Linked DNA regions of Homo sapiens. The protein of the gene in region 1 interacts with the protein of each later gene in a pairwise test. Each region holds a gene or a part of one and is shown in the gene's direction. Other genes may lie near its edges. The genes, in order: CA3 and HPCAL1.

Region 1 (3,909 bases):
GATTACTATATCAAATAACATGAAATTTATTTGCCAATCTTCTAACCACTCATACCAGAAAAAGAATATTGTAATGATTGAGTGGATTGGTTTACTCATACAAATAATTATACATTTTATAAGAACTACAAAACATCTCCATTAACCACTGCAGTCTTTCTGATCAAACAGTGACAGATAGGAGCTGAGAGTTTAAGGGCATTTGTTTACTATGTTTGCTTGGATTTTCCGAACTGCCTTAGTTCCTGATTCCACACTGCTATTGTGTGGATCAAATAATCCCTTGTCACAAAAATACCCTGGGGAATGACTCCCCTGGCGTCCAGGTTATGAGTGTGGTCAGTCATTCCACATGCCTTAGGGATGAGCTATCTGTGCCATGACGAGCGATTTCCTTTTCGAGTTTTGTAATCCCCAAATACTAAATACTATTATCAATAAAAGTTAATTAAGGAAATGTATATCGAAATATTGTTCAAGATAGCACTGAAATTAGGTTTATCTTTCCTCATTGTCTTAAAAAATTATTACTGAATTAAAACAGGAGAAATTTTACAATATACTCTTAAAATTGTAAATATCTACTACTGACCTCTTTGATATGAACCATAACCAGACATTTAAAAATATACTTTTGTCATGTAGACACACTAGATATGCCACTTTTATTCTCCTTTGCATGGTTCAATGTATAAGAAAACAACTTAGTAGGGGGAGAAAAAAATTAAAAGCCATTCTGTAAATCTTTCCCTCTTTCTTTTCTTGCAATCTCTCATTGTATCTTGGAGAGCAAGACCACAGGTTTTAAGAAATATGACTCATTTTATGTTAGTGGCCTTCCAATACTTCAGAATATTCTTGATTTTTCATGAACAGAGGTACAGCTCAGGGAGTGTGGCTAAATCAGTCCCAGTCTCCAGCTCCGCGTGAACCTGGGATCCAGACATCTCCTGGATATCTGGCGCTCTCTGAGATCCAGCCCTCGGTTTCCTGCAAGCCAAAAGGATCCGCTAGGTTGGGAAATGCCGCCTGGTGCGATTCCAGAAAGGGCCATCTCTTTAAGGATAACGGACTTGGAGGGCCTCTTCACCCTCTCACCCTGCTCCGGACCCTTTCTTCCCATCCTTTGCTCCTAGGATTTTACATGTTGCCTGCAAAGGGAGTCAAACTTAGGGGGCAGGCAAACAAACGAGTTCTTTCCAGCCTCTGTAACCGGATCGCTAGAGCGAAATAAACTCGCACAAGTGTCCAGAGATCGTAGCCAGACAGCCAGCCTGCGCTTGAAGCAACTTTTAAGTGAGGCTGCAAGAGCCGCCGGGATGTAGATTTTAGTTCGTGGCCAAGCACAACTACGACACCCTGTCCCTGCCCCCACCCCATCCCCAAGAATGCATGGAGGAAGGAGAGAGGACGAGGTGAGGGCCGCCTGCATTTCTGCACGTCGGCGCCGGTTAGAAACCCTGCAGTTTTGAGAGAGAAGAAGAGGAGATGGAGGGGCCAGGAGCCACGACTCCCGGGAGAGCGCAGGGAGGGGCGTGGGTGCCCCTTCGCCCACCTCCGCCCCCGTCACCTCGACAGCTGTCCCGCTCTTGGAATTCATTGGCTTCCTCTACCCGGCCTCCCAAACACCACCCCAATCTAGTTTAGCCCCCCGCCCCACCCTCGCTGACCTAATAAGGCCATGCAGTGTGCGGGGGAGCTACATAAAAGCGCGGGCTCGCGGCGACTCTGCACCACGCAGGGGAAGAGAAAGCAGGAGCCGTCCAGCACGGAGGAAGGCGACCATGGCCAAGGAGTGGGGCTACGCCAGTCACAACGGTGAGTGCAGGCAGCCGCGACCCGGCCAGGAAGGGATGCCAGTCCAGGAGAGCCCTGCCATTGCACAGAAATGGGCAACTTTAGAGACTGCAGTGGAAAATGTAGGAGTAGAATAAGACCTAACATTTACTGAGGCTTTTCAACTGCCAAATGCTGCTGCTTCTTTTTTTCCTTCATCTCATTTGGTTCTCCCTAGTATGGAGTTTTTATTTCCCTTGGAGAAAACTGAAGTGCAGAGAAGTTGGATCACTTGCCTAAGATCCCATTGCCTCTGAGAAGTCAGACAGCCCGAGGTCAGGTGTGACTGGCCCTTATTCTGTTTTACTGGACAAGCACCTAACCTGAGCTTGGTGCCGGTGTGAGAATCTCTGCTCTGCCTAAGCTTCTCCCTAATCCAAGGCAAAGGAACATGGGTGTGCTCTGAAACCCACAACACAATGCTCAAATGTAGGTGGTCAATATTATTTTATTCCAACTCTATGATGGAAGGTGTCATTGGTTAAAAAAAAATGTGATAAAGTTTATCTGAAAAATAAGCCTTTGAGCAGGCAGAGTGAACACACTGAGTTAAATAGTCTCCATGTGTGCTATTCACAAAACTACCAACAGGCCTGAAATGAATGCTAAGTCTCTTATTGCCCAGTCTGAAACCTAAGACCTTTTTGAAATCACTGTCTAGCCTCTCTGTATTTTGCTGGTTTAGTCAATTAGAAAGAGGCCTTGGGTTGTGCCACCAAATAAATACATCTCCTCGACTTTATTTCCTAGGTCCTGACCACTGGCATGAACTTTTCCCAAATGCCAAGGGGGAAAACCAGTCGCCCGTTGAGCTGCATACTAAAGACATCAGGCATGACCCTTCTCTGCAGCCATGGTCTGTGTCTTATGATGGTGGCTCTGCCAAGACCATCCTGAATAATGGGAAGACCTGCCGAGTTGTATTTGATGATACTTATGATAGGTCAAGTAAGTATGACAATGAGGTAGAATCACATGGATGTTTTCAAGGTCCATATTGACAAAATGTGGTTTATGACACAGTACCAGAATTAATGGGGAGAGGGAGCACTTTATCTTTTAAAATGCAGATGACATTTGACTTTGCTTTAGTCATGAATAATTATATTTATGTATTGAAGAGGAATGTCACACCCTCCAAACTTGGTCTCTGTGAAAACGGCCCCATGTCCAAGCTAAAAGTTGGCAATGCATTCCTGAAATGGAACACGATAGGACAGAGATGACAATAAACTCAAATGAGTATTCTTCAGACTCCGATGGCCTATACCTGAGGGTTCTTGTGCTTCTTGTCCATGGTCTGGAGAGCCAGGCTTCCACTCTCAATTGCATAGATTCCATTCTACAAAGCCAGATATACAATAGAAACCCTAAATAGGCACTTTCTTCCCTTGGTGCCTGGGAGGTGACCAATCTAGGGGAGAGAACAGGGCCACTGAAGGTGTCAAGATGACTTGCCTTCAAGCCTTCAGTGGGGTTCATCTGATTAATCATTTGGGTGAGTATTTTTGAAATATCTGACAATTTCTTCTTGAGTAGTAGTTTGTGTGTGAGACAGCGACTGAAAAATACATGTTTAGAAAAAACAAATCTCTTTATTTCACCTACACTAGTAAGCAAATCAGTATAATAAAAGAAGACTAGTCAGAAATACTTTATTTCACGATAAATGAGGTAAGAAAGAATCTTCCTTTAATATTTTGGTGCTTGATATACAGCAAAATAATTCCTTATAGCCCCATCTCTAATAAAGTTATATTTATTGATATACATAAATGAACATTCTTAATGATTTTGTAATGAAGAATGATATTCATAATTCCTACCTACCAGGAGGTTCCAAGTTACAGAAATTTAAATTTTCTTAAACAGTGGTTTCGTATTGCTATTGTTTCCTTTTTTCCCCTTCTCCTTATATATCAAGTACCATTTTGAAAGCAACATAACAAAATTAAACATATCTATTAGGTTGAACCATATGAAAATGCCATTTTTGTGTGCAAAAATAGTTGAATATTGTCAATTTCATATAGTTTCTTCTAATAAATTGGACTCACATGTCCCTATAATAAC
Region 2 (3,909 bases), on another chromosome or scaffold:
CCTGAACTTTTCCACCCCAACCCCACCTCCTGCCTGTGTCTGCCATGCACCTCCCTTCCTGTGAGTCTGTGGACAGACTTTGCCCCTTTGCCCTGTGTGTGCTTGGGAGAAATCTGCTCAGTTTCTGTGGCAGGGATGTTTCTACGTGTTCATCAAACCGGCTTTGTTTACTTCCGAAACACTCATGAAGACCACAGCTGCCAGAGCCCCTTGCATCCTGGTGGGACTGTGCGACTACTTCTGGCCCATGGATGTGGGTGGAAGTGACGTGTGCTTCCCCAGGCCTGGCTCCTGGACCCCACCGACGGCTTCTCACCTGTAACCCCACCAGCCTTCTACCTGGATACTTCACGGGGAGCTAGAGTGGCCTTGGCTAAGAAGGAGGCATGGCACCCGCGGGTACCGGGCCGCCTTCATCAGTCGGTGCACTCTGGTCCACCGCCCACATGCCTTCATGTAATCTTCACTGTAGGGCCCACAGGGAGGGGAACTTCCTCGAGGTCTAGCTTTGCCTTTCCGCCTTCAGAGCCAAGTAAGAATGAGGGGTCTGGGCTCGGCCCACCTTCCCTGCAAGGCCCTGTGCCCGCTCCCCTCAAAGCTGGTCTTGCATGTTGCTCTGGCGGCCTCTGTAGCAGGAGTTCACTCTGTTTTCCGTGGAGGAGGAGTGGAAGGAGGGATTCAAGCTCTCCCCTAGAGACGCTAGAAAGACAGTTTTGTCTCAGCCTCATACGATCGCCCAGCTCCACATTTCTGGCTGTTTCTGTGGTTACCTTTCTTCGGGGATGTTTGGGGCGGGAGGTGGGTGTGTGTGTATATTTGCTCTTCTGAAGCCGTTTTTCCGGAGCTCCTGGTGGGGGTGGGGGTGCTCTGTCCCTGGTTCCTCTCGAGGCAGGTGCAGGGGATGGAGGATGCCCCCCTCCCCGAGAGCCAGGAGGCGCCGACCCTGGGCAGGAGGTGCCAGACCGGCGCCTCTCCCGCGTGGAGCTCGAAGACCACAGATGCCTGGAAGGGAGGAGCACCTTCCGTGGTTAGGTGGGGAAACCGAGGCAGAGGCGGCCCAATGGACTCGCCTAAACGGCCTGGGGAGTCACTGCAGGTAACCAGAGCTGGAGCCAGGCTTCCCACTCCAGGCCCGGGGCTCTCCCCCGAACAGGCGTGGGAAGGGGTGCGAGCTGCACGCGGGGCTGGGGCTGGGGGTGCGGGGCTGGGGCAACTCGGCTCTTCCCCTTCCTAGGCCGCCCGGGCCACTTCCTGCGGCGTGGGGGCGGGGGGCGCGGGCGCAGGGCTGGCCCCTCCCGGGCGCCGCCTCTCGGCCTCTTCTATACCAGCAGGCCAGAGGCCAAGGGTTAGGGGAACAGAACCGGTGCCCGGCTCCGCCCCTGTCCCGAAAGCCACTGGGGGCTGGGACCCGGCAGGGCCAGGTTTGGGCCGCGAGGGCCGAGGAGCAGCGAGGTGCAGGGGCTGCGAGGGCCGAGCCGGGCGCTGAGGGTCCGGCAGGGGGCGTGGAGGGGGCGGGGCCCGGAGGGGGCGGGGCCGTAGGAAACTTGAGCGCCCGCCTCTGGCCGCGCGCCCCGCCCCGGCCCCCGCCTCCGGGTCCCGCCTCCAGGTCCCGCCTTCGCGTCCCTTCCTTCCCGGAGCTGGCAGGCGGGCCGCGGCGGCGGCGGGCAGCGGACGGGCGGACTGACGGGCGCCTCCACCTTGCTCCCTCCCTGGCTGCCGGCTTCCTTTTGTCTTTCTGGGCGGCGATGAGCGCAGGGCCGGCGCAGCAGCTGCGGGCGCACGGAGGCCCGCGCTGCTAGTCACTCCTCCCGGCCTCGGCGCGCTTGTCCCGGGCAGCGGCCCGGGCCCGCTGCAGCCGCCGCCGGCGCCGAACTTGGGCTCGGGAAGCCGGCGGACCGCGTCCTGCGCCGGAGCAGGTAGGGAAGGGGCGGGCTGCGGTCTGCTGGCTGCTGAAGTGTGCCCCGGGCGTGTGCACCCGGCGTGTGCACCGGCGAGCGCTGCGATCCGGCTCTTTGCGTGTGTGTTGTGCGCGCGTGTGTGTGTCCGGGAGTGCCCGCGTTTCTCTGCGCGGTGGAGTTGTGGGTGACTGCGGACGGTGGTGTGTCTTTCGAATGGCGTGTACTCGTGGGCATCCATGTGTGCCTTAGGTGTGCACATTTTGGACTGCGTTTGTGGAATTGTGTGTCGGGGCGCAGTTGCTGGTGGGGAGCGGTGCCTGGCGGGTGTCGTGTGTGAGCAGCTGTGCGCAGAGCGGGGTGGCGGGGTGGGTGTGGGTGGTCCAGCCCCACGCCCAGAGCCCCCTGTCCCTGCTGGTCGGCGCAGTGCGTAGCTTAGGAGCCTCGAGGACAGCTGGGACCCGACGGGCAAGGGCGGGCCTCGCGGGCAGGCTGGGCAGCCCTCAGGGAACAGGTCCGTGCGGCCCACGTGGGTCGCCTGTGAGCTTCTGCCAAGGGTGGGGGCCCACGCGGAGGCGATCCGCTCGTTCCTCCCAGGGCCATGGGGCGACGAGGAGAGCCCTGGCCTCCCCGCGACCCGCACTGCGACCTGGGCCAGACGCGCCACCTTCCCCGGTCGCGGTTTGCTTCTCTTTAAAATGAGGACAGCTCCTCCCTTGGGGGCTGTGGTGACAGGTGAAATGAGAACGCACTGAAGACAGCTCTTGGTCCAAAGCCCCGCACACAGTAGGTACTGTGTTAATTGGATTAGCGTCTCCTGTTTAAAATCCTTTTTTTTTCCCCTTTATCGTGGGTGGGGCCTTACATTTTCCCCGGGCGTGTTTTGTGCCTCTCCCTGGCCCTAACTTAACCGCGAAGCACTGAGATTCGAGAAAGTTTAGCTGCCAGCTGCGCTGCCTCCTGCAGCACCTCCCGGGCGGCGCCGCCTCCGCGAGTGCCCGAGAGCGCCGCGCTGGGCGCCGGCCCTGCCCCAGCCCCCAGGCTCCCGCGCAAGCGTGGGGGTCCCTCTCCTGGCCGGGAGGCAGCGACTGCGGAGTTGAGAACCCTTTGGTTCAACAAGTTCCTAGTCCGGGAGGATGCAGCTCAGCTCGTGGAGTCCGAGAGTCACGGCGTAAAATTGGCGCTTCCCGCACATGCAGATCTCGGGCTCCCGGGGTGTCCCGGCCGCCAAAGGCCACCCCTTTCCTCCTGGCTGACCCCAATTCCACCAGAGGAGGATGTTTGCCAGGGACGCCGAGTCCAGCTGCTGGCCTCGGCATTAGACAACCCCCAGCCCCAGCCCCTGCCATCCCTGCTCCCTTGCAGCCAGCCTCATGCCGGGGGTGCCACATGGGACACCTCCTCCTAGTCCCACACCTTAATTTAAAACATTTACTTTTGAAACCTACTAGTCGTAAAATTGAACCGCAGTGAACGAGCACCCAGCTCTTACCACGACTCACTCTCTGGAGAGTTCTGGCGCCTCGGCGCTGGCTCGGACGCAGCAAGGCCAGCTCTAGGGGTCGGGTGGCTCTCGGCCAGAGCGAAGGATATTCTTTCCCTTCATCGCCTTGGTGTCTTTCTCTGGGGGAAAAAAATCGCCTTTAACCAAGGGAGCCAAGATCTCACCAGTGCAGGAGGCTCTCAAAATGGAGCGCCGGCATGGGGTTGGGCTGCGGAGGGGACAGCATGGGCGGCCTTTTGGTATGGATGCGCTTCCCAACTGTCAGGGGCTACGTGATGGTGTTCCCAGAGAGGCGGGCTGCTTTGCGGGCTTTTAGGAGCCAGGGATAGAAACCTGGTCCGGTTCCTTTGGTTTCCCTCGGCCGAGACTGAAGCCCTGCAATCCTAGCCATGGCAGGCCAGGGGGATGCGATGAACTCATTTTCTCATTTTTCATCCTGACTTAGTGACAGGGGCACACTTAGAATGCACCCTGTTTTCTGTTTCATCAAATGATTTTATGTCCTACAAG

What was found.
Region 2: the proteins of CA3 (region 1) and HPCAL1 interact in binary tests that used the Homo sapiens proteins (3 or more experiments, as listed by UniProt).

Annotation. Positions count from the first base shown.
Region 1 is NC_000008.11:85,437,126-85,441,034, forward strand, and holds the start of CA3 (carbonic anhydrase 3), read left to right. Parts: upstream 1-1,733; 5' UTR 1,734-1,784; coding exon 1,785-1,818; intron 1,819-2,586; coding exon 2,587-2,784; intron 2,785-3,909. UniProt on the Homo sapiens protein: Reversible hydration of carbon dioxide.
Region 2 is NC_000002.12:10,301,262-10,305,170, forward strand, and holds the start of HPCAL1 (hippocalcin-like protein 1), read left to right. Parts: upstream 1-1,642; 5' UTR 1,643-1,916; intron 1,917-2,438; exon of another isoform or gene 2,439-2,681; intron 2,682-3,909. UniProt on the Homo sapiens protein: May be involved in the calcium-dependent regulation of rhodopsin phosphorylation.